Linked DNA regions of Homo sapiens: region 1 is linked to region 2. Evidence: fine-mapped expression QTL. A gene starts in region 2. The other region holds a variant in brackets. All regions are shown on one strand. Distances are between the middles of the regions. Region 1 has its middle 90 kb from the start of MIR548P. Region 2 holds the start of FAM174A (family with sequence similarity 174 member A).

Region 1 (11,619 bases), 190 kb before region 2:
AGACTATCTTTTTTTCACTAAATTGTCTTTGTAATTTTGTTGAAAAGAAGTTGTCAATTTCTTGGTTCTTTTTCTGGATTTTGTATTTTGTTCCAATAGTCAAGTTTTTATTCATTATCTCAATGCCAAACTGTCTTGTTTATTGTACTTTTATAATAATTCCTAAAATCAGTCAGTGTTCATCTTCCAATTTAACTCCTCTTTTTCAAACTCTCTTTTGGTAATTGTAGGTTCTTTGAATTTTTGTATAAATTTTAGGACAATCTTATAAATTTATACTAGAAAACTGCTGCTTTTTTCACTTGGGATTGTGTATTGAATCTATGGTTCTATTTGAGAGCAACTGATAGCTTAACAATACTGAATCTTCAACCTGTGAACATAATGTACTTCTCCATTTATGCAGGTCTTTAACATTTTTTCTCAGCTATTTTTGATGGTTTTCAACATGTAGTCATCTTACATCTTTAAAAATATGTATTTTACATATTTCATAATTTTCATGTTACTTTAAATGGTATTTTTAACATTTCAACTTCTATTGATAGTGTGTAGAAATACAGTTATTTTGTATTTAAGAGTATTGTGATATTCTGTTATTTTTGCTTGTTTGTGTGTTCAGCACCTTCGTGCATTTTTAACTACTTCCACAGAAACCGGTGATTTTCTACTCGACAGAGATTGAGAATTTTAGCAGAAATAGAAGAGAGGTACTCCTCCATCAAAGTGAAACCACAAAAATCTTGTTTACCTTGCACTTTCTGTTTAAACACGGTTGGACCACATAGCAGCCAGATCAGTTAGAAAGGCTGCTCTTTCTTCTTCCTGTCCCTGTCTTCTCCCATCAGTGCACAAATTCTAAACCACGGGACTACTTGACTCTCCATTCTAGGGTGGCTGTGCTAGGAGTCCGTGTTCCTATAATGGATACATTCATGTACTTGGAGAATATGATCCCATGTCTATTTCCTTTAGAGAGAAGCTCTGAAAATATATTTGATAGTGAATGATCTGGAAGATTATTCCAATTTACCCTTCCAACATCTGTTTTCATGATCTCCTTTTTCTGCACTGTTTCTTCTACACTATATATTCTGCCACAGAGTGGCAAGGATAATTCAACTTGAGTATATTTTAGGTTAAAAAAGTGTTATCGACTTTTTCATAAATTATAATATACCTCTATGTATCTTTTTCCCCTTTGCATTTTTATTTAGGTTATCATGTTCTATAAATTTTATCAAATAATACAAATTAGATGAGAATGTGAAGATAGTTGATTTAAACGAGGATATCTAATTTATATGAGGATAATAGTTAATATACTATTTTTTGGTAAGGTATTAATTTGTGTTCTTAAGTTGAACTTTTATAGTTCACTATCCTATTTAAATGACAAGAGCACAAGAATTAAAGCAAGTAAATATTGAAATTCTAAAAACCCTTCCTGAAAATTCCAAGTTTTATCAAGGAGCTAATTTTTACAAAAGACTAATTTTGTACATATTTTAATTTTCTAAAATATGACGTGCCACTTCTTGTGTGTGTTTCAGTGTTTGTGAGTGTTACATATTCTGTTTCCTGAAAATAACTTGGTTTATTCAGCAAAATACAGTTCTGTTTTTTGAAGCAAACTAGATTCCTTCTTTTCAAAGTTTGATAGAAAGCATAGATATTTGCCTCTGAAGTTTTCCATAATTAACTTGGTTTGGAAGATATGTTTGAAAGTATTGATTAAATTATGTCCTTTTTCCACCTTTGTTTTTTGTTTTTTGTTTTTTGTTTTTTTTGAGACAGAGTCTCTCTCTGTCGCCCAGGCTGGAGTGCAGTGGGGCGATCTCGGCTCACTGCAACCTCCGCCTCCCGGGTTCATGCCATTCTCCTGCCTCAGCCTCCCAAGTAGCTGGGACTACAGGTGCCCCCCACCACGCCCGGCTAATTTTTTGTATTTTCATTAGAGACGGGGTTTCACCGTTCCTTTTCCTACATTTAAGCTCTCAGATAATTGAGAATATGCAATAACAAGGAAATGAGATACTAGACCAATTTGAACTAATATAAACAAATTTCCAATATTCATCTCAAGCATAAAAATACTTATGGGATCATGTTGGGCTTAGTTCTTAATTAGATCTTGAAGCTCATTTTCTTAACCACATTCCAACAACTTTGAATGACATTTTAAATACTCTGTTGCCTTGGTGTTTTATATCAATTAGCATTGTTGTTTTCTAGCTTACTTATTATTTTTTACTTATGAATTTATTAGTCTAATGACTTCATATGTATTATATGCTCATATTACCAGATGAATTTTGAGTAAGTTTTTAAATTATTTTCATTCTTCTTTAGTTAAATGGTCTCTACAGAAAACAAGATAAATTTGCATATATTCCATATGCATGCTGAATTGAGAATGCAGGTTTTTCTTAAGCAATACCCAAGGTAGTTATTTAATACTCAAGCATTTTGGCAATTTCTTTATATGCTGCTGTTGACTTTTACTGGACTAATTTCTCTATAGGCAAAAGTAAATGGCCAGTGTTAACTCAGAAGATTTTACAAGTTTGTAGTTTTACATAATTATACATAAAATAAGTCATTCAAATTTGAAGAAGTATTGAAGTTTTAATAAATTATGTTAAGTCAAGTTTAAAATCAAATGTATGCTGATTTGGGTCCAATAATAGGGATAAAATATTAAAAATTAAAAAAAGAGAAGAAACAACAAAACAGTAGAAAATGGAGAACCTAAGATTAGCAGTTGGAATTTAGATGATGTATTAATTTTTCTGGAAATCCATGTTGTTTTCTTCATTGTGTCACTTACAAACAAATATATCAAATAGTGCTTTATCAAGATAGTATTCATTTTTATATTTCTGCATTAATTAATCAAACATTTATTCAACAACATCTGTGTGCCAGATACTTTGGTAGGTACTGAGCATGCAAAAAGGAGCCAACAATATAATGGGGTAAAAACCTAGATAAGCAACTGACTCCATTCCTGTAGAGTAGTAATACTGTCTGCCTAACTTGTAATGATTCTTTAACTTTTAGCCGTAATATCACTTTTTGTAGACATTGTTCCTTGAGTAATATTCCTTACTTTCAACTGTATTAAGAGACACTACTAGGTATTTCCTCAACATTCTGTTCTTTCTTTATTGTATCACTTACCACACTTTAATGTAAATGCTTGTTTTAAAATCAAACATTCTAAGCTTTGGCAGGACAGATCAAAACTGCCTTGCTCATATTTATACCCCTTGTTCCTATCACAATACTTGGTGCGTGGTGTATGTTTACTATAAGTAGTTGAATGCATGCAAAAGGAAGAGGGAGGGAGAGAAATGCAGAGAGGAGAAACAGGGATAATGAAGGAAAAAGAAGAAAAGGAGTGAGGAAGACAAATCTCACACTGAAAACCTCCATTAAAGTCTGTTTTGGATTAAATTCTCAATTTATTTTCAGATAAGTCAAATTTACAGATAGAATAAACAATAGAAGAAGCTAAAATTCCTAAAAAATATTATTTCCCCTAAATATGCTCTGGCGAGGGTTCTGGAGACAAACATGCACATGAGGTCTCATTCTACTTTCAATCTACCACCAAACTATTTAAACAGTTTGAAGAAAGCTCAGTAACAAAATCATAGATAAAAATGTCTATATTCATGTATCAGTCAAATGTCTACCTAAGCAGACCAAGATGTAGGAAAATTTCAAAATGTTATCTATCTAAACAGACTGTATAAGATACCACTTAGAAAAATCCAAAAGTCATTTTCATGTAACAAATCCAATGTCAGAATTCCAAATAAAATATTTCCAAATGGGTAGGAAATTATATATATATAATTTTTATATATAAAAAATATATAAATTATATATATAATTTTTTACATAAAAATTATATATATTTAATTCTATATATTATATTATTTATATAAAACTGTTAAAATTATATATATAATTGTATATAATATATTATAAATAATATATAAATATATATTATTATATATAAACATATAAATATATATTATTATATATAAACATATAAATATATATTATATATAATATATAAATATAAATATTATATAATAAAAAATTATGTATAATTATATTTAATTTTAGGTTAACTTCACACTATGAAATATATATGTATGTACATACATACATGTATATATGTATATACATATATAAATATTATATATAATATAATATATAATATATAGAATATATTTATATAAAATTTATATATAATTTATATATTTATATAAAATTATATATAAAAGTATATACAATTATATATAATTATATTTAATTTTAAGTTAACTGCGCTATGAAATATATATATACATGTATATGTATTATGTACATAATTTTATATTATATATATAATATTTATATTTATATATGTATACACATATACATGTATATATGTGTATACATATATATTTCAGTGTGAAGTTAACTTAAAATTAAATATAATTACATGTACATATATGTATGTACATATATACATTTTCATGTGCATATATATGTATATACATATATGTACATAATTTTATATTATATATAATACATTATCCTTATATTTATATATGTATGTACATATATACATGTATATATGTACATACATATATATTTCATAGTGCGAAGTTAACTTAAAATTAAATACAATTACATGTAGATATATGTATGTATTTATATACATTTTCATGTGCATATATATGTATATACATGTACGTACATATATACATGTATATATATGTATGTACATATATATATTTCATAGTGCAAAGTTAACTTAAAATTAAAACAGAAGGTTTTATCTTTTCTTTGGTACATTTTCTCTCTGATGCTGTATTTTCAATATTTTTTACAGCTAACATACATTATATTTCTACTTACACAAAATAAAGACAAATGTTAATAAAAATAACAATGTGGAATTGAAATAACCATAAAATCATAAAGCAAAATATTCTCATGTTCATATTTGAATATATACATAGCTATATATGTCCACTGATTGTCTTTGTTAAGAATAACGTAGTATATATTGAATTATGCCCTATTTAATCAAAGAGATTATTTTTCTAAACTGGGCATAGATTTGCCTTGCCCATATATTCTTTGTCTATATCATTTTATAACTTTGCTGCAACATCTTCTGGAAATTATTATTACAGTTAAAAATTGAAATACCTGGGTCAAAAGTTTACATATTTTCCAGGATCTTGAAATATTTTGATACATACTTGCTAGACAGGTTGCCTATTTCATCATTTCTATATTAAAACTGATTATTATAATTCTTAAAATATGTGCTAACTTGATAGTAAATAAATGATGGCTTACATATTCTCACTTGAATTTTATATTTGTTGATAGGATGACTAAATACTCCTTTATGTATTAATTAGAGGATTTTTGTACTATTAGTTTATTTGCATTATTTTATTCATATTATTTATGTATTTTTGTTTCATACTTTGTAAATTACTTGTGTAAAATATTTTTGCAAATCAAAATTAAGCTGTCATCTTTATTCAGCAATATTTAAGCCTATTATATAAAGATATATGGAAATATTAAGTTGATCCAGATAGAGAAGCATTTTGAACCCAACTTGACAAATTAATATGTCTGAGTCATAAATAAACTATCTGGATTGCATTTACATGCTGAACTTTTAATCATTAGTCTAAGCTTAAGCTATATCAATCTATATTCAGCTACCGGAGCTTGGAAAATTGAAATATAAAATTAACAAGGTAGAAGTTTTGCCAATAAATCTGTTATTTTTACTGCAATACAGGGTAACCATTTATAGTACTAAGAAGAGTTGCTTTCAATCTCTAATATGCTTCTTTTGAAATAGCATCATTGTGTTTGTGGCAGTAAATGGTTCAAAGTGCACCTAATACATTCAGAGTTCACCAAATTCTTTGCATTTCCAATCTGACCCACATCATATTTATTGGGCTATAATGACTATGGAACACAACAAATTCAGGATGTTTCTGGAAAGGCAAAACCTCTTCTATTAATAATGCAGCAGTTGAACATTAAAGTACTGTCACTATGCTAGTTTATGATGTGATAAAATTGTTAAAAGTACATTACTATGTAACTACAGAGGTATATTGGGCCATAAGTGTATTTTAAGTACTAAAGAGAAAAAGGAATTAGATAAGGAATAAGATAGCTTTTATAAAGGTTAAAAAAAAGAGGCATATTATGTGCTATCAGACAGGAATGATAGTTTGTGTTTATGTAGTGTGCATTGCTAAATTCTGTGTGTGTGTACATGCATG[T/CATGT]GCCCATATGTGTTTATCTGCACACACATATGTGTGTGCTCATGCAACTATGTGTAAAGGTGGCTTCCAGATTTCTCAGCTTGTAGGCGAAGGTGCTAAAGACATATACAGTGGGTGAAAGGAAGTATGGTGACTGTATGAAGTCAGGGTATGAATATTTCTGAGAATAAAGCAGAGAGTAGAAAAACGTAAGTGTCCATAACTACTGGTAAACCCTGCAAGATGTAGACTAGTTTGTAGCACAGTGCTGATTTCTCTCATAGAAATTATAGATTTAAATAAAAAATTGATTTTGAGAGTATTTGTTTTGTCTGTATTTGTTTTCTATTGCTGTGTTACAAATTACCACATTTGGTGTCTTAAAACAGCACACACTTATTATATAACTGTTTCTGTGCCTCAGGAGTCCAGGCACAGCTTAGCTGGGTTCTCTGCTCAGGGTTTCACAAGGCTGCATTCAGGATCTCTACCAGGCTGCTTTGACATCAATAAGCTTCATTAGGGAAGAATTTGCTTCCACGTTTATTCAGGTTGTTGATAAAATGTATTTCCTTAGCATTGTAAGATTCAGGTGGCTGTTTTCTAGCTGGATTTTGGCTGGGGTGACTCTTAGCTCACAGAAGTCACCTGCAATTCTGTGCCATGTGGCCCTTTCAAGACCAGGAGGAGAATCACTCCAATCTCAAGAAGGGCGCAGTTGCTCATTTAAGGGCATTAATTTGAATAATTAGGCCCACCAAGAATGATCTTTCTTTTGCTTAATCAAAAATCAGCTGATCTCATTGAACTAAAAATCAACCTGAATTTCATCTGCAAAATCTATTTATCTTTGCCCTATATATCACAGGAGTAACATCGTATCATATTCACAGTTTTCACCATACTCCAGAGTGTCATTATACGGGGCATGGGCATATGCCACAAGAAGCTGAATCTTGAGGCTCACTTTACAATTCTGCCTGCCGTGGTGTCCAAGCTATTTTAATAACTGATTATTCCTCCAATTACCAATATTGTCATTTGTTTAGAAAATGTTTCCAATTTTCTTTTATTACATCATTCTAATTCTCTTACTTTTATCTATTCCATTGCTTCATTTCTTGATTTTTTCACTGTGCCAAGACCCTTAAAATTGATAAACTATTACACAGAACTGCTGGCTGCGGCTTAGCCTTCCCCTATAACCCACTGACCACTTCTGTACACCGTACCTTGTAGAGGCAGCATGAAAAAAAGAAAGTAAATACATTTCCTACAGACAGATCTGAGTTTGAATCTTGATTATCTTACTAATTATAAGGTCTTGAGTAAGTGATTTTATATTTTGAGTTGCAGTCTCCATGTCTGTTAAGAGAAATCAGTGTTTACTTTTGTTATAACTAGAAGGAGAAACTATATAATGCATGCATAACACCCAGTAGAATAATTGGCTCATAGAAACTAATCGATAAATGGAAACCCATTCTCTGAGTACAAATATCCTTTAGCACTGGTTCTAGGTCTCACACTGCTCAGGTTTTGTATAAATAATAAATTCTATTTATCAATAACATCTATGTTCTAGACCATGTATTAAGTATATTCTTCACAATTATCTCATTGAATGATGTATTACTTTCCTCTGGTTGCTATATTAAGTTACCACAAACTTGGCTTAAAACACGAAGTTATTGTTTCATAATTCTGGAAGCCAGGAGTCCAATACCAAGGTGTCAGTAGGGCCATACTCCCTCTGAAGGCTTGAAGAGAGAATCCATTCCTGACCTCTTTTATGTTATGGTGGCTCCAGGTGTTGCCTCCCTTGTGGCCACATCACGTCAATCTCTGCCTCCATGGTCACATTATTTGCTCCTCTTCTGCATGACTCTCTTCTGTGTGTCTCTTGTAGGGATACTCATATTAGATTTAAGGCCCACCCAGTTAATCCAGGATAATTTTCTTATCTTAAAATCCTTAAATTAACTTCACATGCAAATACCCCTTTTTCCTAAATAAGATATCATTCACAGGTTCTAGGGATTAAAACAAGAGTATTCTCTTTAACGGACATCATTTAGCCCACTACCAGTAACAATCTAAATTTTAAGTACTACTATTATTTCAATTTTATTGAAGAATTAGCCATGTCTCAGAGATGTTTAAGTACTTTTCCCAAAGTCATAGAGCCAATTAGTGGTATAAGGGTTGGGAGGGGGGCTAGGTATACATTTCTGACTTCAACCTTGTGCCCTGAAACCCCCACTGTGCAGTATGCTCTGGCACAAGGAAGCAAGTCCTAGAACTCTTGGGAAATCATATCTTGGAGGACACATCCATCAGTAAAAAAAGAACATTTTACTCTTTTTCTCCTTACATAAGCTTAGCTTGACTTTCTGAAACTGTCAACATTATTTCTTCTAGTGAAAATTAACCTGAGTGTGGGAGTGAGAGTTGAATTGCTTTAAATTTGAAGATGTCAAAGTGAGGGTCGAGTAGATGCCTATCTTGGTTCTTTAATTAGAAGATCTTAGAGTTCGGTGCTAAGGATTAAAAAGCAGGGTGAATCACTTTACCTTTGTGCTGTGATCTTTGATGCTTTGTTGCTGACCCTTCACTACCACAAATTACAAAGGTCAGAAACTATTTGGAAAAGAAAGTTTGATGTTATGAAGAAGCACGTTGCCTCCCATGCTTCCCCACCATTCCACTTTTGTCTCATTTTTCCAGCTAACCTAGATTCCTTTCATCTACATACTGTATTTTATTGGCAATTATGATAATTGGTTAATATGTCTCAATTTGTACCTATATTTTTTCTAATCAGAATAAATTTCCTTCCTTATAAAACTCTTACCAGATCATCTAATTAGAGTCTTCCCCCAACCTCAGCAACTAGAATTCACTTTTATGTATTTGCACTGCATATGTATTTTTGTGATGACCATAGAATAAATGTACAAGTCACACACTTTAGTAGAAAAGTCTTGGGCTGGGATAACAATTGTTGTCTATGTTCTAGTTTCAGTTCTGCATTAATTAATTGCATGCCCTCATCTGAAGGCCAAGGTGACTTTTTATGCTTTTGCTTTATTTGCAAAACTGAGATAATTACTGTTTCCTGACTCAAGGCATTATTATAAGTATAAAAGAACTTACAAAGTAGATGTCAAAATGCTCAGAAAACAAAAAAGTTGTATGATTTTAACCAAAAAAAGATAAAAGAATACAAAACAATTGAAATAAATAAATTAAAAATCTACAGAATTATTTGGATGTTTTTCTAAGTCAGGAGATTCTCTACAGTTATCATAGTCTATTTACATGCCTTGGCATTCTCTGCTAATGACATTGGGATAATCAAGATTTCAGAAGATTTTTCATGTTGTTAAGTATAAATTTGACTCTACTGAAGATAATTCCTCCTATAATGGCAATTCTGCAAATTCTAAGAAATGCCTTTGGAAACTGATTCTAGCCTCCATTTCCTCTTAGCCCTAATTTGCAGGATTGTTGCCACATTTACTCTCTGTGAAAGCTCATCAGCCAACTCCAGGGAGCTTTAATTCTCAGGCAGTAACATCAATAGATAAGTGGTTGAATAGTAACCAAGTATGCAGCCCCCTTCCAAGAGAAGGTGAAGATATTTGTAGTGTGAATGAAGGCAATTCAAAAGTATTTAAACTCAAATGATTAGTGGAACTGTCCAGGGACCAAAGGGACTTAAGTGGATGTGATAAAGATCCACCTGCTGTTTTTTAGAGAGAGTTCACATTTAAAACACAAAATAATTAAGTGTTTTAATTTTGATCCCCCTAGTGCTTCTCCTTTTAAGAACACAGCAGGGTGGGTGAACATAATTGGCATCATTTGGAAGGTTGAGTGCTAAGGTTGTAGCAAGTTCTCTGTTTGTAGATGAAAAATGACATTTTGGTTTAACATCTTGCTATACTTATCCATACTTTGCTCCTATTCTAATTTTTAAGCAGAAAGATTGTGCCTACCTCAACTTCAAAAAGCAGCCTCAAATCTTCAAAAGCTAGGGTAAACTACGTCTTTCATATGAGAGACTTAACAGTATGTTCACCTGGGAAGAAACCCAGGCAAAAAATGTTTGTGTGTGTGTGTCTGTGTCTGTGTGTGTTCTCTGATATCACTGTAACTCAGACAAGATGTTACACTACCTTTATAGTTTTATTTCACTCTAAAACTCACTCATGTATTATTCAAGGCCTTCTATGGTCCCTTTGATTTCCTAGTTAACTAAATCTTTGAATTAGGCTCACATACCAGGAATAATTGAATAACAAAATAGACCCTTTTTCAGTTGATACAGTAATAATAGAGAAATATGAAAGAAGAAGCTCATCTTAAAAACAGAGTCAGACTTCTTTACCAATGCACTGAAATTTCATTCCAAAATAGTGCCTGTCATGTTGTAATTTGCTTTCTATAAATAGTTGAAGGTTAAATAAATGAACAAGTTTTCTGCATTATTTATTCCTGTCATGTAACACAGCATGGCAGCTTCTGACCCTGCCCTCAGCTATATAGCTTGAAGATAAGATGATAGACATGGAATGGGTTAGATTCAGTGTTTCTGTGAGGATATTTCTATTTGATTTACCAATGTCAAACAAATGTTTTCTTTGTGTTGCAGTTAGAGGTGTGTTGAATTAAGAACCTAAAGACCTTGATTCTATATGGTATTCGAATACTTGACCTATTTATCTCATATACAAAATGGAGATATAAGCCTATAAATCGTTGACATTTTGGCACGGGTGTTTGTTAATGAAAAACAGTATGCAGCCAATACAACTATTATATTTTTTTCTAAACAATAAGATAGGGCTATGTTATTTAAAACAATAGCTAAATATTAATTCACCACATTCATTAATATTTCAACCAGGGACTTTTTTTTTGAAATTTATCATTTTTTTAAAAAATTGATGTATAAATGTATATGTATTTATTATGTACAATATGATGTTTTGAAGTATATATACATTATGGAATGGTGAAATCTAATTAACAAATTAATTACCTCAAATAGTTATCAGTTCTGTGGTGAGAACATTTAGCATTCACTTTCTTAGCATTTTAAAAAATACAATATATCATCATTAACACTGGTTACCATGCTATACAGTAGACCTTGAACTTATTCCTCATATCTAACTATATATATGTATCTTTGACTAACATTCCCCAACTCCTTATCCCCCACTAACCACTCCAACCTCTGGTAAACCATTCTACCACCTTTTTACTCTCTATTTCTATGAGATTGATGTTTTTAGATTCCAAA
Region 2 (11,619 bases):
CAGAGCTTAGTAATGGCACCCAATAGGTGGTAAATAATATTTACTGAATTAGTGACAGTCACTAAATACATAAATGGTTAAATAGTCAAAAGTACTCCTGGTTTTGCTTAAATTAAGTGATTTCTATGGATGTTTTATAATTTTGTAAATAGGGCTGGTACCACAAGACTTCTAGGAGAAAAAGAAAACAACTCATATTCTTAAGTAACCAGACAAAAGAGAAATGGTGATTAAAGTCACATGCATAAATCATTAGTGACTTGCTCCACTAAGGTGGAAATATGTGTGACCATATTAACAGACGTTTCTTTAAAATATTACCATTCCCTGACTATGTGTAGTAAATCAGGAAAATCTTTGGATGAGGGAAGGAATGCAGGGAGTTGAGGTAGGAAACAAAATTATTTCACCTTGGCACAAATATGATGATCAATAAATGTTAACTCACTTTTCAAAAAGGTAAAATTTGGAGGTTTAACATCCAACAAAATCATGTGTTTTAAACAGAAAGGCACTGGGCATATACTATCCACTTTATTTTTCTCCATAAATAAGCTAGCCATCTTTATGTGCAATATCGCTTTAAATTGGTTACTTTAAATGATCACAGGAAGCAGCATGATGGTTGAACATGTTAGGTAAGTTCCAGCAGAGCTGGGTTTGGGCAGGTCCTGTATGTGCACGCTTGGGCAAGTTATTTAAACTTGCTCAGCCTAAATTTCCTCAGTAAGAATGATATTACCTACTTTGAAGGTTTTTGCAAGAATTTCAAAATGCACATAAAGTATGCGGTATTATATCTGACACATAAATTATCAATTAACTATCAGCTATTAGGATGATAAGTAAAAGCTCAAAAATAATCTTTCAGTTACAAAGTATGGTTCTTTGAAAAAACCTAACGTTGTGTCTTAGCGTATAGGGTTGGGTAAGCATTCAAATTAAATTAATATTCTTTATTTCCTATATAATATGTATTAATAGGATCTGCATTTTAATGCCTTTTCATAGCATCCTTTATGTACTTATCTATGTGATTATTTGGTTAATGCCCCTCTGCTCCTCTAGTATATAAGTGTTATAGAAGCAGAAATGTTTGTTTTGCTCAAAACTGTATCCCCAGTGCCCAGTACTGGTCAGTTGAATAAATATTGACTGCTTAAATAAAGGCTATCATAATAAATTTCATGCTCATCTCCACTATATGAGCATGAGCACCATATTTTCTTGAAATTGGAAGAGACTTGCTAAAGAGCATAGAGATTTTTTTTAAAAAAAGTAGAGGGTTAAACTTTTAAGCATCGATTTCCTTCCAATATACCAAATTGAATAAAAAACGAAAAACCAACGACATGGCATGAAAAAGGAAATAATTCCCTGCTTTTAAGGCAAGAATCATTATTCAGCTATGACAAAAATTGCTTTATATAATTACCATACGTGCTAAAACCAACAACCATCTACAGTGATTTCCCCCCACCCCCGCTCCCTGGCCTTATACATTTTACTGTGGAGAGAATGTCCTACTGAGAGGAAGGAAATAAAAGTATTAATTGAGATCTTCGCAGTTCTTTGTTCCGTCAGTAAACAGCAATTATCCTTAAATTTCCAAATCCTTACCACCTACCTGTTCAGCAATATAATACATGAAGAGTGCTCATCCATTAGGCAACTGCTTATTCAGTGCCCATCATATATTGCACATGATGTTTAGCACTGAGGATATAGGGGAGAATAAGACAGAAAAGTCTCTTTTCATAGAGATTAAGTGTTCATTTTAGGCAATCTACTTTGTCCCTACCGTGTTCCTTGCATATATATATATACACTTACATATATATATATATGTTTTGTATTTCTACAGTGAGAACCTGACTGTTCTTTGGAATGTTTCCAGACTCAAAAAGGAAGTTATTATTACCTACATATTCATTATAAATGAATTAGATAAAAACAAAACTATTTGAAAGTCTCATGTAGTTCAATGTAATAAAATTTTACAAGTAAAATATTTTCTGCATCACCTCAAATCAGTTAAGAAAATAATGATTTTGGCCCATTCTTCTCCCTTGGCACAAATAACTAATTTCAGTGCACTGTCACACATAGTTTGAAAATGGGAGCCAAAATGAGCATTCACCAAGATAATGAAGAAAACCATAATCTGGAAGCAAAAAGTATGAGTTCGGAACACTGCCCAGACATTGTTAGCATCATTCAAGCTTTGGATGCCAGGCAGCCAACTAAATGTAGGACTTGGACTGCATGAATATGTTAGATGCTGGTTAAAGAATGCACTTTTTATTAGCCATAGTTCAGAATTTGGCTGTTAACACACATCATGTTACCAAGTCATCCAATAGGATCATATTGGAAGGACTGTATCTGTCCAAGTTTTACAACATTAATGACAGAAAATCAATGGTAATAAATATGTGTATTTAAAATAATTAAAAAGGTGGAAGCAAAAGGAAAAAAACAAGGAAGGAATATTCCCCCCAAATTATCATTATACTTATCATTTTTATGTATAAGAGATACAACATTCAAGGGGCCATGCATTTTTATAGGAACTATGTACAGACAGCAGTAAATAACAGTTATATAGTGAGGAAAATAATTTGTTTCAATATTCTTTTAATCTTTCTTTATATTAAGAAGAAAGTCTCAGTTTGGTGGTAATATGCTTTTAACACTTAGAGTGTGAGTGCAGATTTGCTAGCCTTTGTGAACCAACAATATCTAGCTCAAATAATATTTCTTACAGCTGTGGTTCTCAAATATTGCTTACGCCTGCTGTTTTGGATTTCTTTACATTCTTAAAATTGTTCAGGAACCCAAAATAACTTATATTTATGTGAATTACACATATCAACTTTACCATATTAATTAAACTTGAGAAAACCTATACTTATCAACTGATTTAAAATAATAGTAAACACATTACAAGTTAACATAACTTTTATGAAAAACAACTATATTTTCAAAAAAGAAAAAAACGTAAAAAGAATGACATTTAGATTCTTATTTCCAATTCCCTTTAATATCTGGCTTAAGGTGATAGGAGTAGATAAAAAATAGAAACAAAAAATAGGAAATGGATAGATTTTTATATTTACTTCTGCATTAAATCCTTTGCAATGTGTTGTTTGGTTGAAGCATACAAAGTAATTCCATCTTCGCACAGATATAAACTTGGAATGGAAAGAAACATTTTAATAGCCTTTTTATATATGAGTGGTTATTCCTTTATGATACTACTACACCAAAACTTGACAAGCAGTTTCTTAAAGATTAGTTGCAATGTGGAATCTGAAACAATATCAATGAACTACTTGTACCCTATAAGCCTGTAACAGAATGTATTATTTTGAAAATAGTTTTAATACTGTAGATGCCCTGAAGAGGTCTAAGTGAAACTCCCACCTGTGTGGTTCCCTGGCCCACATGTCAAGAACCACTGGCTTACACTATTTTTTAACTAGCCAAGTGATGTTGGTTTTCCATTCATGATAATAACGACTTGTTTAAAAGGAAACTTTTGCTTTAAATAATCAGTTTAAAGAAATATGTTAAATTACAATACAGAGGGTATTTATGGGAAAAACGTGAATTTTGAAAACAATAAACAAACATAAGCTGCAAACCTACCCTCTACACTTATTTTATAATGAAATAAACTGCTAGACAGCTTTCCCTCACCTTATCTCTTTGCTGGCTTCTCCTAATGGTGAGGTCTTGGCTCTGTATGTCAACTCTTCAGGAAGGTGATTCTCTGCCACTTAGGTGGCAGATTAAAGGGCAATACTAGGAAACACTGATAGTAAGGAAGAACTTTTCTTCTCCTGAATTTTATAAAAATAAAATATCCATAAGGCACCTCTATATTACTATTAATCCACTCAAATATATATTGATTTCCTATTAAGTGGCAGCATTGTACAAATAATTTGTAAGACTCACAAACCTACTAAATAGATATCCTGTCTTTAAAGAGTTTGCATTCTGATTGGCAAAATTTTGACCAGTTAGGTATACAAAAATTTAGACTAGAAAGGTAGAAGTATTACAAGACAGAGTAGTCAAAATTCTAGGGAATAAAGATTATCCTCACTTCAGAGAAAGGGTGCCCTTTGAGGCTGACGTGGGTTGTAGGTCAGATGAAGAGATTTGGAGGTAGGGCACTCATTTATAAACAAAAGGCAGCAATTAGTTATAGGTTTAAATTGCTCCAAAGGTAACAGGCCTTTAAGAAAGTCAATATCATATTCTTAAGCAGGAGTCCCTGATGCTGGGGAAGGGGGAAAGGGTCACAGAAGTCAGCCTTGCTGGAGATCACCGGCCTGCGTATCTCAGGCCCACGGGGGTGCCCCACCGAGGCTTTGCCTCACCTGACCGTCCTGACCACGAAGTACACCAGCACCGCGCCGCTCACCACCATCAACACGGTCAGGGCCCGCTGGGTCATGGGCTTGTCGCCAGGGTTGGGGCTCACAGCAAGGCCGCCACCCACCGAGCCTTCCCCGGCCTTCCCTCCGTGATCGTCCGTCTCAAGCCCGGCCACAGGGTTGCTGCCATTGCCTCCCTCGGAGCCCCGCGGCCCCGCAGCTTCAGCCAGACCACGGCCCGGCTGCTGGGCAGGGGTAGGGCCCGGTGGCAGCGGCGGTAATGTCCGTGGTCTAGGGTCAGGAGGCCCAAGACCTGGCGCGGCCTCGGCTGCCTGCAGCAGGACTGCCAGGGGCCCGCTTAGTTCAGGCAGCAACAGCAGGAGGAGGACGGAAGCCAAGAGGTGGCTGAGACAGCAGCAGCACTGCGAGGCCTTCATCGTTCCCGGACCGCTCTCTCACCACCCGGGAGCCGCCAGGCCCGCCACGCTGGCTCCAAGAGGGACCATAGGCGCGGTGGAGAATGAAGCAGAGGTGACCAAACGCCAGGGAGAGGCCCGGTCGTGGCAGGTGGCAGAAGCTACAGCAGTGGCAGCTGCCCGGAGAACCGGAAGTTCGTACATCTCAGCGGCCACTGCTGCTAAGGACGCCTTCGGTTGCTAACTTGTAGGGGCGGATGCACTTGGTGACGTCAGAGGCCTAGCGCCCAGTGCGCACGCGCACTTGTGTAAAAAGCGAGGACGTGACCGTTTTGGAAGCATTGTTCTTTTCACTGTTAGTGAGGAGCGGTCAAGGATGCGTATTAAGAAAGTAAGTAGACAAAAAGAGATTGTGTAAAATGTACAGCAACTCTCTCATGCAGGAACCCTGAGAGATTGGAAACTCATAATCTGAATTCATTGGTGTCAAACTGCAATAACACATTTAATCTGTAAGCCAGAAGGGCTTAGTTTTCCTTAGCTTCATTACAAGCTTTAAGCAGGCTTTTTTTCCTGCCTATGGGTCCCTGACCTCCCTTTCTAAAGAGCATTTGCTTGTAATGAGTTCATGTCCTTTGTAGGCACATGGATGAAGCTGGAAACCATCATTCTGAGCAAACTATTAGAAGGACAGAAAACCAAACACTGCATGTTCTCACTCATAGGTGGGAATTGAACAATGAGAACACTTGGACACGGGATGGGGAACATCACACACCGGGGCCTGTCGTGGGGTAGGGGGGAGGGATAGCATTAGGGGATATACCTAATGTAAATGACGAGTTAATGGGTGCAGCACAGCAACATGGCACATGTATACATATGTAACAAACCTGCACGTTGTGCACATATACCCTAGAACTTAAAGTATATTAAAAAAAATTACTTTAGAAAACTTTACCATTGTAAGTTATTTCTCTTCCCTTTTCAGATGTAAATATTTTTTAAAGCTTCTGGCCAGTTATATAATTGAAAACTATCTCAAGGGTATGGAAAGCCATCATGCCTTTGAAATATAATCAGCAAGGAAGGTAGTGGGCCATCTCTTATTTTGTGTGAGAGGAAAGGAACCTAACTGTTGTAGGCTTCTCGCTTCAAGTTGTAAAACCACCTCCTGTCATGGAGGAGAAAATTTACTTTTCCTTTGGGTAAAGTCAATCAGCAAACTCAGGTGGCCGGTGATCTTCCCAAAATAGCTCTTAATAACTCTCCACTCCTTTTTTTCTTTTAGAGGAGTTGAGATTAGAAGAGTTTTATCCCCTTTCCCAACAGCAGTAGTCTTCAATAATGTCTTCCTTGCCTGTTTGACTTCAGTAATATGGAACTTCAATTTGTGCAGATAACTAGAAGTGGCCGCATGATGTACCTCTCACCAATGAGATGCCTGTCAAGGGTATACGTGGGTCTTTTGAGTAAGTTATTGTTTTCATTGCTAAAAGAGAGACAGATACAGGTAGATATATACAGAGAGAGAGCCAGAAACACACACACATGCATACACACACCTACCTCTCTCATTATTCCTTTCCCCCTTTCACTTGCCTGCCCTCTCTGCACAGAAAGTTCTGGCCCTAACCTTGAAAAGAATATGACCCAGCTAGTCCTCTGATCCTAGTAGACTGTGGGATATCTGGCGTAAACTATGACTAAACCTATAGCCTGGCACCAAATGCAGCCAAGGTTAGCTTAAGTTAGTCAACCCCAGCTTGACCAAAGAAGTGAAAAATAAATGCTTATTTGCTGTATGCCACTGATATTTCTATGGTTATTGATTATGCCACATTATTCTAGCAATAGTTGATTAAGAAGCTAGAATCAAATCATGGTATTAATTAGGAGAATATAATAATGTGGCAGTAACCTGATACAAATTTCTCATTCTGAGATTTTTTCCCCTTATTTATGTATTTTTTTTTTATATCCTGTGCTTGGTACAACTTGTTTGCAAGCCAATTGATAACAAGTAAATGAACAAGTATATTAAAATTAAGAGAAAAATTCATAAACAACTAATTTTACTTAGTTTGAAAGATTGTATTTCACATAGATATTTGTGCTCAAAATTGTAACTTTCTATTGCACAAACAAAACACAGTATCTTCTCCTAGGAAAATTTTTGTTCATTCCCATGACAGATTTCAAGATGTCATTATATAATGATGTTTTACAAACAATATGGTATTCTAAAAAGAGCACAGTAACTTCCAGGTATGTTGCCTGCTTAAGATCACTTTTGTTGAGAATTGAGTATCTCTGAAAAATCTGATTTTGTTTTTGTTGTTGTTGTTTAGTTAGTTGGTTGCTATATCAGGAGAGATCTGTACTTAAAAAGTTTATCCTGGCAGTAATATAGCCATTTTAAGTGAAGGTAGAAAGTGCTGGGCACCAAGCAGGTTAGTATATAGTCCTAGGGCTATAGAGGCCTGTAGGATTGGATTAATGGGAAAAAAGTTAGGGAAATGGACAGGATATGACAATATCTGGATGCAGGTAGTAAGGGAAAGGAAAGAGATTCTTAAATTTCAGTGTACATGAAAATCACTCTGAGAGCTTGTTAAAAATGCATATATAGTCCATGTCTCCACTTCCAAAAATTCTGTCCAGAATTTCTAAAATAGTGATCTAGAATCTCCAATTTTAACAAATTCCCTTTCTTATTCTGTTTTGGGTAATTGAGAGCTGCATTTTGAGAAACATTAGAACATAGCTTTCCTAATCATTTGGAAACAATAGTTTGATTCTAAGATTTCAGAATCATTTAGCTCTTTGCATGTCCCAGTTATTGCCAAGGACTGCTGCAGATGGGAATTTGGGGTAACAAATGATACCAAGGTTTTATGCCTGCACATCTGGGAGAATGATAATGCCATTAATCAAGATGAAGAACATGACAAAATCAGATTTTGGAAGGAAGGAAAGATAATGCACATTTTCTTTTTTGTCATTCCTTTTTTTTTTTTTGACAAGTTGAATGTTGGACTTTTTTGGGAGGAGGCATTAAATACTAACTCTATTCTATTTTTTGGGAGAGGCATTAAATACTAACTCTATTCCATTTATAATGTGGAATGAAGTTCTGAGTAAGGAAGATGGGAAATCAAAAGGGCATTTTATTACTGATAAATGCCATTTGGAAGCTGACACTAGGGTGTACCACAAATGGGCTTCTTTACACTGAAACTCAACATTAAGATGCCTAATCCTTGCAGTTCTGCCAGCCAGAAGCAACTGCCTTACCCTGCTCCCTGAAAGCAGCTAAGAGACAAACTATCCTGTCCACTCTACCTAAAACAGCAGTTTACAAAATTTGTAGTATAGATCTTGTATGTTTCATTTATAACACACACTTAAGATTCCAAAATTAGTGTGATTATTTTTACCACTTGAACCTAAGTTCTATGAAGCAAGGGTCAATCTCATTTATTCACTACTCAATACTCAGAATTTAGCACAGTGCTAAAAAAGAGTATATCAAAAAAGACAAAGGTGGGCATTACATGATGGTGAAGAGTTTAACAGGAAGAGCTAACTATGCTAAATATATAAGCACCCAATACAGGAGGAGCTAGATTCACAAAGCAAGTTCTTAGAGACCTACATAGAGACTTAGAATCCCACACAATAGTAGTGGGAGAATTTAACACCCCATTGACAATATTAGACAGATCATCAAGACGTAAAATTAACAAAGATATTAAGGACCTGAACTCAGCTCTGAATCAAGTGGACCTGATAGATATCTACAGAGTTCTCCATCCCAAAACAACAGAGCATAACATTCTTCTCATTGCCACATGACACTTACTCTAAAATTGATCAAATAATCAGAAGTAAAACACTCCTCAGCAAATGCAAAGGAACTTAAATCATAACAGTCTATCAGACCACAGTGCATTCAAGTTAGAACTCAAGATTAAGAAATTCGCTCAAAACCACACAACTACATGGAAATTAAACAAACTGCTCCTGAATGACTCTTGGGGAAATAGTGAAATTAAAGCTACAATCAAGAAGTTATTTGAAACTAAAGAGAACAAAGAGACAACATACCAGAATCTCTGGGACTCAGCTAAAGCAGTGTTAAGAGGGAACTTCATAGCACTAAATGAACACATCAGAAAGCTAGAAAGATCTCAAGTTAACAACCTAACATCTCAACTAAAAGTACTAGGAGCCAGGAGCAAACAAATCCTAAAGCTAGCAGAAGACAAGAAATGACCAAGATTAGAGCTGAACTGAAGGAGATAGAGACACAAAATGCTCTTAAACAAATCAATGAATCCAGGAACTAGTTTTCTGAAGAAAGTAATAAAATAGACTGCTGACTAGACTAATAAAGAAGAAAAGAGAGAAGTATCAAAAAAACACAACCAGAAATGATAAGGGGGTATTACTACTGACCCCACAGAAATACAACCATCAGAGAATACTATAAACACGTCTATGCACATAAACTAGAAAATCTCATAGAAATGGATAAATTTCTAGACACATACACCCTCCCAAGACTGAACCAGGAAGAACTTGAATCTCAGAATAGACCAATACTGCACAGCAAAAAGCTTATCCACCACGATCCAGTTGGCTTCACCTCTGGAATGCAAGGTTGGTTCAACATATGCAAATCAATAAATGTAATTAATCACATAAATAGAACTAAAAGCAAAAACCACATGATTATCTCAATAGATGTAGAAAGGCCTTTAATAAAATTCAACATCCCGTTATGTTAAAAATGCTCAATAAACTAGATATTGAAGGAAGATGCCTTGAAATAATAATAGCCATTTATAACAAACCCACAGCCAATATCATACCGAATGGATAAAAGCTGGAAGCATTCCCCTCGAAAGCCAGCACAAGACAAGGATGCCTTCTGTCACCACTCCTATTTAACAGAGTATTGGAAGTTCTGGCCAGGGCAATTAGGCAGGAGAAAGAAATAAAGGGTATTCAAATAGGAAGAGAGGAAGTCAAATTACCTTTGTTTGAAGATCACATGATTCTGTATCTAGAAAGCTCTATAGTCTCAGCGCCAAAGCTTCTTACACTGATAAGCAACTTCAGAAAAGTCTCAGGATACAAAATCAATGCAAAAATTGTTAGCATTTCTATACACTAACAGCCAAATCAGGAATGAACTCCATTCACAATTGCCACAAAAAGAATAAAATACCTAAGAATACAGCTAACAAGGGAAGGGAAGGACTTCTTCAAGGAGAAACAAAACCACTGCTCAAATCAGGGAGGACACAAACAAATGGAAAAATATCCCATGCTTATGGATAAGAAGAATCAATATTGCAAAAATGGCCATACTGCCAAAAGTAATGTATAGATTCAATACTAATTCTATTAAACTACCACTGACATTCTTCACAGAATGTAAAAAAAAAAAAAACTATTTTAAAATTCATATGGAATGAAAAGGAACCTGAATAGCCAAAACAATCCTAAGCAAAAAGAACAAAGCTGGATGCATCACACTGCCCAACTTCAAACTATACTACAAGGCTACAGTAACCAAATCAGAGTAGTACTGGTATAAAAACAGATGCATAGAGCAATGGAACAGAATAGAGAACTCAGAAATAAGGTCACATACCTATAACCATTTGATCTTTGGCAAACCTGACAAAAACAAGCAATGGGGAAAAAATGTCCTATTTAATAAATGGTGCTGGGAGAAGTGGCTAGCCATATGCAGACAATTGAAACTGGACCCCTTCCTTACACCATGTACAAAAATTAACTCAAGATTGATTAAAGACTTAAATGTAAAACAATACTATGCAAACCTGAGAAGAAAATCTAGGCAGTACCAGTAAGGACAAAGGCACGGGCAAACATTTCATGATGAAAATGCCAAAAGCAATTGCAACCAAAGCAAAAATTGAGAAATGAGATCTAATTAAGCTAAAGAGCTTCTGCACAGCAAAAGAAACTATCATCAGAGTGAACAGACAGCCTATAGAATGGGAGAAAATTTTTGCAATCTGTCCATCTGACAAAGGTCTAATACACAGAGTCTGCAAGGAACTTAAGTTTACAAGAAAAAATAACCCCATTAAAAAGTGGACAAAGGACATAAACAGACTCTCATAAGACATACCTGTGGCCAACAGTCATATAAAAAAAGCTCAACATCACTGATCATCAGAGAAATGCAAATCAAAACCACAATGAGATACCAACTCATGCCAGTAAAAATGGCTGTTACTAAAAAGTCAAAAAAACATGCCAATGAGGTTGCAGAGTATTGGAAGTTCTGGACAGGGCAATCAGGCAAGAGAAAGAAAGGGTATTCTTTTATTTCTGTGTAAAAGGAACAGTGTAAAAGCAATACTTTTACACTGTTTGTGGGAGTGTAAATTAGTTCAACCATTGTGGAAGACAGTATTATGATTCCTCAGAGACCTACAGGCAGAAATATCATTTGACTCAGCATTCCCATTACTGGGTATATACTCAAAAGAATATAAATCATTCTTATTGTAAGGATACATGCATGTGTGTGTTCATTGCAGGACTATTCACAATAGCAAAGAAATGGAATCATCCTAAATGCCCACCAATGATAGACTGGATAAAGAAAATACGGTACATATATACCATGGAATAGTATGCAGCCATAACAAGAAAACATATCATGTCCTTTGCAGGGACACGGATGGAGCTGGACGACATCATCCTTAGCAAACTAGTGCAGGAACAGAAAAGGAAACACCACATGTTCTCACTTATAAGTGGGAGCT

The links.
Region 1: its variant is fine-mapped to the expression of FAM174A in whole blood (INTERVAL, PIP 0.97).

What each region holds. Positions count from the first base shown.
Region 1 is chr5:100,721,135-100,732,753 of GRCh38, reverse strand. No RefSeq gene overlaps it. Among named protein-coding and RNA genes, the nearest start is that of MIR548P, 90 kb to the left of the region's middle. RefSeq lists an enhancer at 9,636-10,279. The variant T/CATGT (reference allele first, on the strand shown) is at 6,330.
Region 2 is chr5:100,528,737-100,540,355 of GRCh38, reverse strand. FAM174A (family with sequence similarity 174 member A) reads right to left here and starts at 4,982. Exons shown (of 3, transcript NM_198507.3): 1 at 4,392-4,982. The coding sequence starts at 4,825. FAM174A-DT (FAM174A divergent transcript) reads left to right here and starts at 5,113. Exons shown (of 5, transcript NR_172939.1): 1 at 5,113-5,195; 2 at 6,204-6,276. RefSeq lists an enhancer at 4,724-5,023.